Linked DNA regions of Homo sapiens. The protein of the gene in region 2 purifies or fractionates together with the protein of the main gene of each other region. This does not show direct contact. Each region holds a gene or a part of one and is shown on either strand. Other genes may lie near its edges.

Region 1 (3,522 bases), on a different chromosome or scaffold from region 2:
TTCTCACTTCTGCAGTGTTCGTCTTCTAAAGAAGGCAGAGCATGCACAGGCCGCCCATGCAGTGGGGCTCTCCTGATTCTCACTTCATAATGACTGAACATATCTTGTTCTCTTAAAAATACAGTTAAGTATTATAACTAGCAACAGGCCTGGGACACCAAAGACAAGCACTCTTTACTGATTTCAAACTCAGAATTCCCTCTCTGGAAATCGAGACTAAGCTCTAGCTTCCAGCAACTGCTAGGCTAGCCCTTACCCCAAGACCTAGGAGAATGCACCAGAGGCTTATCCTTCCTGGTGCCATGAATAGATCTCTTTAATGTCTCAGATCCTCTGAAGAGGCCAAATGGGAAGCGGATTCTTATTTATTCTGTATATCAAATCTCATTAAAAATATGTCTGAGAGGTGCTCCAAATTCTCTGCTATAATGGAATTTAAATCTCATATCATTAGAATTAAGACATCATCACCTACGACTTAGAAGCCTTTTTGAACCATAAAAAGAGATTTGTTTTTTACAGACAGTAGTAAAGTTTGGATTTTCTGACCAAGATCTGACAGCTGGGGTGTCCACACCTCACACTTTAACAACTGATTTTGTCTGAATCCTGTGGGATCAGTGACGGGTGGTCAGGAATCCCCTGAGAACTAACTGTCTCCACTGGTGTCCCTCCATCCAATATTCTTGGCTGCAGACTTGCCTCGGCCACAAGCTCCCCATTTTCAGCATGGACGCGGGCGATTGCCCCAATGTCCTTGCAAGCGTGCAACACTTGGTACAGCTCACTGTCTCGAAGCATGTACAGGTCCTTGTAGGTCATGAACATCTGGAACGAGTTGACACCCTTCTCCCTCACCAGTGTCTCCATTTCTGCTTTCACCTGGAGAACAAGTAGAAGGGCAATGCTGCGTGAGGGCAGACACCCAAGAGGCCGACTGGCAGGCACCGGCCCAGCATGGGGGAGATGTGGGGCCTGCCCCAGCTCAGTCTGTCGGTTGACCCCCCACACCTCTCTATCTCACTTTCCTCCCACCCCACAGGCTGCTGTGAGGCCACCTGAGTAGATGGATGCGGAAGTACTGTGAAAATTGTCAACACGACACAGTTTAGGAGCCACATTGTTACCTTATAGGCACGTTTCTCCTATCACTTAGGCCTGTCCCCTATGTCTGTCTCCAAACCAGCCTTAATGGTAAACATAGGAATAATGATTTTAATTTCTGTGGGCTGTTGCCTGGCATTACAAAGAAGGCATACTAATGCTAAAAATCCAGAGGTCCTGGGAAAACCAAATTTAGGAACAAAGCTAAACATGAACAAAGTTATGAGAGTTAGGATATTCCTAACATTATTTGTACTAGGAAAAACATGGAAGCAACATTGGCCTGATAACAGGAAAATAAGTTCAGGTTCATCCACTTGGTAGAATATTAAGTGGCCATTATATTGCTGGTTCATGAACTTCATGGCAAAATAGAAAATGCTCACACCTATGCAAAATAGCTACTCTGTGAAAGCATGGATGAAAAAAGATGGGAAAGAAAGAAGTTTAACAGCAGGGATGGTGCTGGGGGTTACTGGATTATGTACTTCCTTTCTTTTCTATTTTTCACATCTATAATTAGAAACATTTATTTGATTATTATAAAACAGAATTTTAAATTCCTGATGCATGAAAGTCACCATAAGCTCCAGGAAATTAGGGAGGGTTGGCCTGGCTTCTGTGCTGCTGGGAACCTGAGAAGACCCTCTATTCTAGGCCAGCTCCAGGGGAAGTAGAGAGTGGCTCAGAGGTAGAGGCCTCTCACCCAGGAGAGTGTCCAAAAAGGAGACCCCCATTTGAGATAAGGAATGGCTGACATTCAGCGTGATCTGCACCTCTGGCCCAGAACCGGGAGGAGGTCTTCTATAAGTGCCAGGTCAGAAATAATGAAGAAACCGGGTGAGCCCCCAGCTCAAGGCTAAGACCCGAGGGCAGAAATATAGTGAGGCTTTAGGTTATCATCTGAGAAGGGTGTTAGGCCCTTTATACCAGGGCCTGCAACTGAAGAACTTCATAAAACTTCTTTTTTCTTTTTATGATTAAGAACAGAGTTTATTCGAGCTCAAAGCTTGAGGATGTCCACCTGGGAGCACAGATTCAAGCTGCCCTGAATATACACTCTGATTAGCAGCAGTTACAAGTGGGTTTTTGACGGAAAATGAAGAGGCAGTTCCTGAGTTGGTAAAACTAATAATGCTTATTATTTTTATGATTCTGGGGCACCCACCAAAGTACTGGTACATGGGGCTTAATAAATAATTGATGAAAGAATGAATATCCAGACTGCTACCCTGGGCAAAAAAGCAGAAAAACCCCAGAAACAAAGCCAAATCGAAATGCCTGTAGATTAGGAAGAGCAAGGAAGTGGGAATCCGGGGAGAGGAGTCTGGACTCTGACCCTGGGGCCTGGGCAGGGGGAGGACAGGAAAGCCAGAGGCCAGGGGCACAGACACAAAGGAGGCACAGAGGCTGAACTGAGAAAGGCTCAGGGGGTGCCAGCCTCAGTCACAGACCAGGACAGCCTCGATGCTTCTCAGAGCAGAAGCTGGGCCCCCAGTAGGAAAAAAGCATACCACATTCCTTTCATTCCAGACAGTACTGAGGCAGGATGGGAGCCTCAGTTCGGAGACCTCAGCGCAGTGTGGTGGACTCTCAGTACACATAGGATATGGGATATGACCCTCTGCACCTGAGCCCTGCTCAGGCCTCTTCTCAGCAGCACTGCCCATGACCTGTCAGTGGTGCCCTACATTCACACGAGACGGTAAGAGCCTCATGGTCAGAGCAATGAAACTGCATCCCCAAGGCCTGGGCTCTGGCCTTGGCCTCTCTGTGCCTGCCGGAAAATGGCTCATTAAGTTAAGCAGCACAAGCCCATCCGCTCCCCTTATGGAATCCCAAGTGTGTTTTCTTTTGGCATTGTGGGGAGCTAGGATGGTAGTGGGAGGGGTGCCCCACACAAGCAGGAGGCACTGCACCCCAACCAGCCCCTCTGCCTACAAGACCACTTGTGCCTTCTTCTGGGATCCCACCAGCACTGTTACCTTGGGTGCCCACCAGGTGATCCCCACGTGGAGGGCGTAATCACAGCAGACCTTGGGGTCGGCCAGACCTCGGCACTTCTCATAAGCGTCCACAAGGGAGGTCTCCTTGTCGGGCAGGACGTGGCCGATGATCATGGTGGTGCCTCCGACGAGTGCTGCCTGGGAAGACGGGAAAAGGCAGTCTCGTCACAGCCCTGCCTGCCCCCGAGTCAATGATGTGGTGAGACATGGTCCTCATGGTCCATTCAAAGACAGGCCCTGCCTCACAAGAGGCTGTGAGGACCAAGGGCAGCGAGGTTTGGGAAACTGTAAAGAGCCATGTGGAGGTGCGAGAGCCAGCGCGACCTTCATCATGACCACGGGTCCCCAAACCTGCTTCTTCCTCCGCCAGGGTTTCAGCTTGGCGCGCTGGAAAAACCACATCGTGGGTCAC
Region 2 (3,522 bases):
TTTTAAAATTGTGAATTCTTAGATCACAGTATCCTTCTACATTAAGACAATGCAAACTTTGTGAAAGGCTAGCAATTGTAACATACTATGGATTTTAAGCTGTGTTCAAATTACTTACTTAGTAAAGTATTTTCCACTGAATACTTGCTATGGGTAGCACAGGCATAGTAACTGTCAATTAAGACTTTTTTTCCAATTTTGACTAAAAAAAGAGGAGTTTAGTAATTTTTCTTTCTGTGGTATACAAAGTATCCCAATTATTAAAACTGGGAGCATAAATATCTCCTAACAATCTCTGTGCTTCTTTATATATGTTTTTAAGACACTTGCTAACCCTATGAAACCAGAGTGAAGTACATGCATACATTTCCCAATGTTTTACCCATCTTTTTAGAGATTTCATCAGATATAAACTGTAAGTTTCCTCTTTGACAAATTTAATTATAAGAAATTAACTAAGAAATTATTATGGCTAATTATCAACATATACTATAGTTCAAGGTATTTTTTTTTTTTGCAACTGACAGTTTACAGAACTAATATTACCACACACTACAGACAAAGAAGCCAGTCATATTGATACAAATATGAGATACAAAAATACTAAAACCTCCAACCTAACCATATTAATAGAAATGTAGTCAGAGGCCTGGTGCAGTAGCTTGTGCCTGTAATCACAGCATTTGGGAGACTGAGGCAGGAGGATCACTTGAGGCCAGGTGTTTGAGACCAGTCTGAGCAACATAGCGAAACCCCATTTCTACAAAAATACAAGAGTTAGCTGGGTGTGGTGTTATGTGCCTGTAATCCCAGCTACTCAGGAGGCTGAGGGATGAGAATCACTTGAACCCAGGAAGAGGAGGTTACAGTCAGCCCAGACCATGCCATTGAACTCCAGCCTGGGTGACAGAGTGAGACTCTGTTTCAAAAAAAAGAAAAAAAATCTAGTCAGTGCTAAAAGGAACTTTTGATATCTTCATTCCATCTTCAGTCTATGGTTGAGAGTTGATCTGTTCAACATCAGCAAGCTAGTTGATGGCTGGGTCTATGGTCTAGGACCTCTCTGTTACCTGATTCCTAAGCTAAGACTCTTCATAGAAAACACATTGAGTCAATTCTCCCTCTGTTTCTCTCTCTCTCTCTCTCTCTCACACACACACACACAATTTACCTTAATATAGTTATTGTAGAGCAATCTAAACAAGCATATTTTTATACAAATTTACATGTTGTACTGTGTACTTACTTATCAGCCTTTTCTTTTGGCAGGAGAGCACAAAAATAAAATACATTAAAAAACCAGCGCAGAACCTGCTACATTATGGATTTTCAAAAACAACAACAAAAAAGTCTTTCTTTTATCCGATCGACTGAATTAGATTCCAGTAGGTGTGGAAATATATTAAAGTGTTCTCAGAAATATGTCATAGAAATTCACTAAGCACAATATTAATCTAACTCTAAACTAGAATATGCGTCTGCACTGACTTTATTTCCTACAAATAGACAACATTCTCCAGCCTCACCTGCCTGTTTCTTTCCTTAACTATGTAACAGATGTACCAAGAGTTATTCTATGTTTCTAGATTATGTATTTCCTTTCATATTGAAATGATGCATATATTTCTTTCCTGTGTACATATACCCACCAAACTTTTCCAGTAGTAATGAAACTCTCAAAAACTTTCTAAAGTAATGTGATGCTAGAAAATGCTAGTAAAAGCTAACCAATATACAATATATGCATGGAGTAGGAAGTTATAATTCCTTCTACTTGTAAATGTGACCTAATTACATTCTGCCTTCTTAAATTTCAAAAATAACATATATAAGCTGGTCTATCAAAATGTTTTAAACACCTAATTATCCACAATATAGAATTTGTTTCAACTTTAAACTAAACAAATGTATCTGCCTCTGAGCAGTAAACAATGGTTAGTGATATTTAGATAATAAAGTTAACTTCACAGAAACACCCAAATCTTGTATCTAGTAAGGATTTATTATAACAAATATTGAATAATTTATTATTTAAATGGTTAGAATAAAGTTCAAGGGAAATATAAGCAAACTACTTCTTTCTCTAACAATCTGAAATACATGGGGGTTTAAACCTTCTATATTTTTGTCAAAATAGTAATTAACCATAGATGACAGATGCTGCTCCCTAGTCAATGGAGGGTCTCAAATTTTACTCTGCATCTCATTGGGAAGGAAATATAAATTTTTAAAATAGAATTAACTTAGGGAAAGGCATCAGTGCTGCAACTCTTAGCACCAAATGTTTTTTCTTGGAGCACCAAATGCTCTAAGGAAAACATTCCAAGTATCAAAGTTTTCAGATAGATAAATATTTATGGATCAAATCCATAAAGAACAGACATTGTTATGAAATATATATAGATGCCTTCAAAACTTTCTTTCTAGGCAGAGTAGACACATAAGTTAGGAGTCATTTCCCACTTAATTGTTTTTGCAACCTTATGCAACACGAATGGATTATGTGCAAGACTTATTCATTTTTACACAGAAAGTAGATCTTGACTGACATGGTGTCCAGAAAATCAAACAGAAGCTATTTCTCTATATAAAATATAAAGTGCCATTAAATTTATAGAAATGGCTTCATTTTAATCTTTTTTTGGTGGAAAAGTATAGGGATTTTTGATCTGGTCTTTTGGTAAGAAAATAACACTCTTCAAAACAAATTCTTTTCAACTGCTAGTTAGTATAATTGGAGAAAAGCATAAAACAGATCTGGTTCATATCTTTAAGGGCAATGAAATTCCATCAGTCTTTGAACTTTATTAATGATATTTTTTCAGTCTACATATAGACCACTGCCACTTCCTCTTCATTAAGAGCTCTTCATAGTAGCTGTATAACAATCTACAGAAAGTTATTTTTCCATTTAAAGGCAGAGGTTAATTTTCATTGTTCATGCAGCAAAATGTAAGTATGCTACATAATTCTAGAGAAATTTGAAGTAGTTACCAAAGAAACATAGCCTTAGCTTCTGTAGTATTCTCAATGATATTAAAATAGCAATAATTGGTGTGCACTCATCAGAAATGAAGTGCCCATTTAAGGAAGCCACATTAGGTCTTGTTCCAGATGCAAATGCAGAACAAAGGGATACAATAACTCATTGCAGAAAGGGTTGGGTATACTATATCAGGCTTCCAAGTTACACTTGCATATGCAGCTACTGCCAATAGTATCATCTGTGAACATGAGGGACATTTTGGAACTGAATAGAATTCCATCCCTGAAACTAAGCATAACAACTGCATATTCAACCCAAGAAGGCATTAGCTTTATGTGGGCTTAAAGAAATGGTAGCACAGGCATAGGTAAAATTTTTATTTATGAATGTGTGGACACATGACTTTGGATCCAGCCAGCCAGTGACATAAATAAACTTGAGCAAAAGTTTCAAGCTAGAGGATATATATGTATAGAAAATTATATATTTGTGTGTGTGTGTAAGGCCTCTTGGAACAGTGCCACAAACCTGGACAC

Evidence for each region. Proteins that work in one complex are often made in the same cells at the same time.
Region 1: the proteins of ANTXR2 (region 2) and DPYSL5 purify together in Homo sapiens (affinity purification with mass spectrometry; one large-scale study listed by BioGRID and IntAct). This does not show direct contact.

The regions. Positions count from the first base shown.
Region 1 is NC_000002.12:26,924,613-26,928,134, reverse strand, and holds part of DPYSL5 (dihydropyrimidinase-related protein 5), read right to left. Parts: intron 3,249-3,522; coding exon 3,090-3,248; intron 883-3,089; coding exon 703-882; intron 1-702. UniProt on the Homo sapiens protein: Involved in the negative regulation of dendrite outgrowth.
Region 2 is NC_000004.12:79,902,223-79,905,744, forward strand, and holds part of ANTXR2 (anthrax toxin receptor 2 isoform 1 precursor), read right to left. Parts: 3' UTR 1-3,522.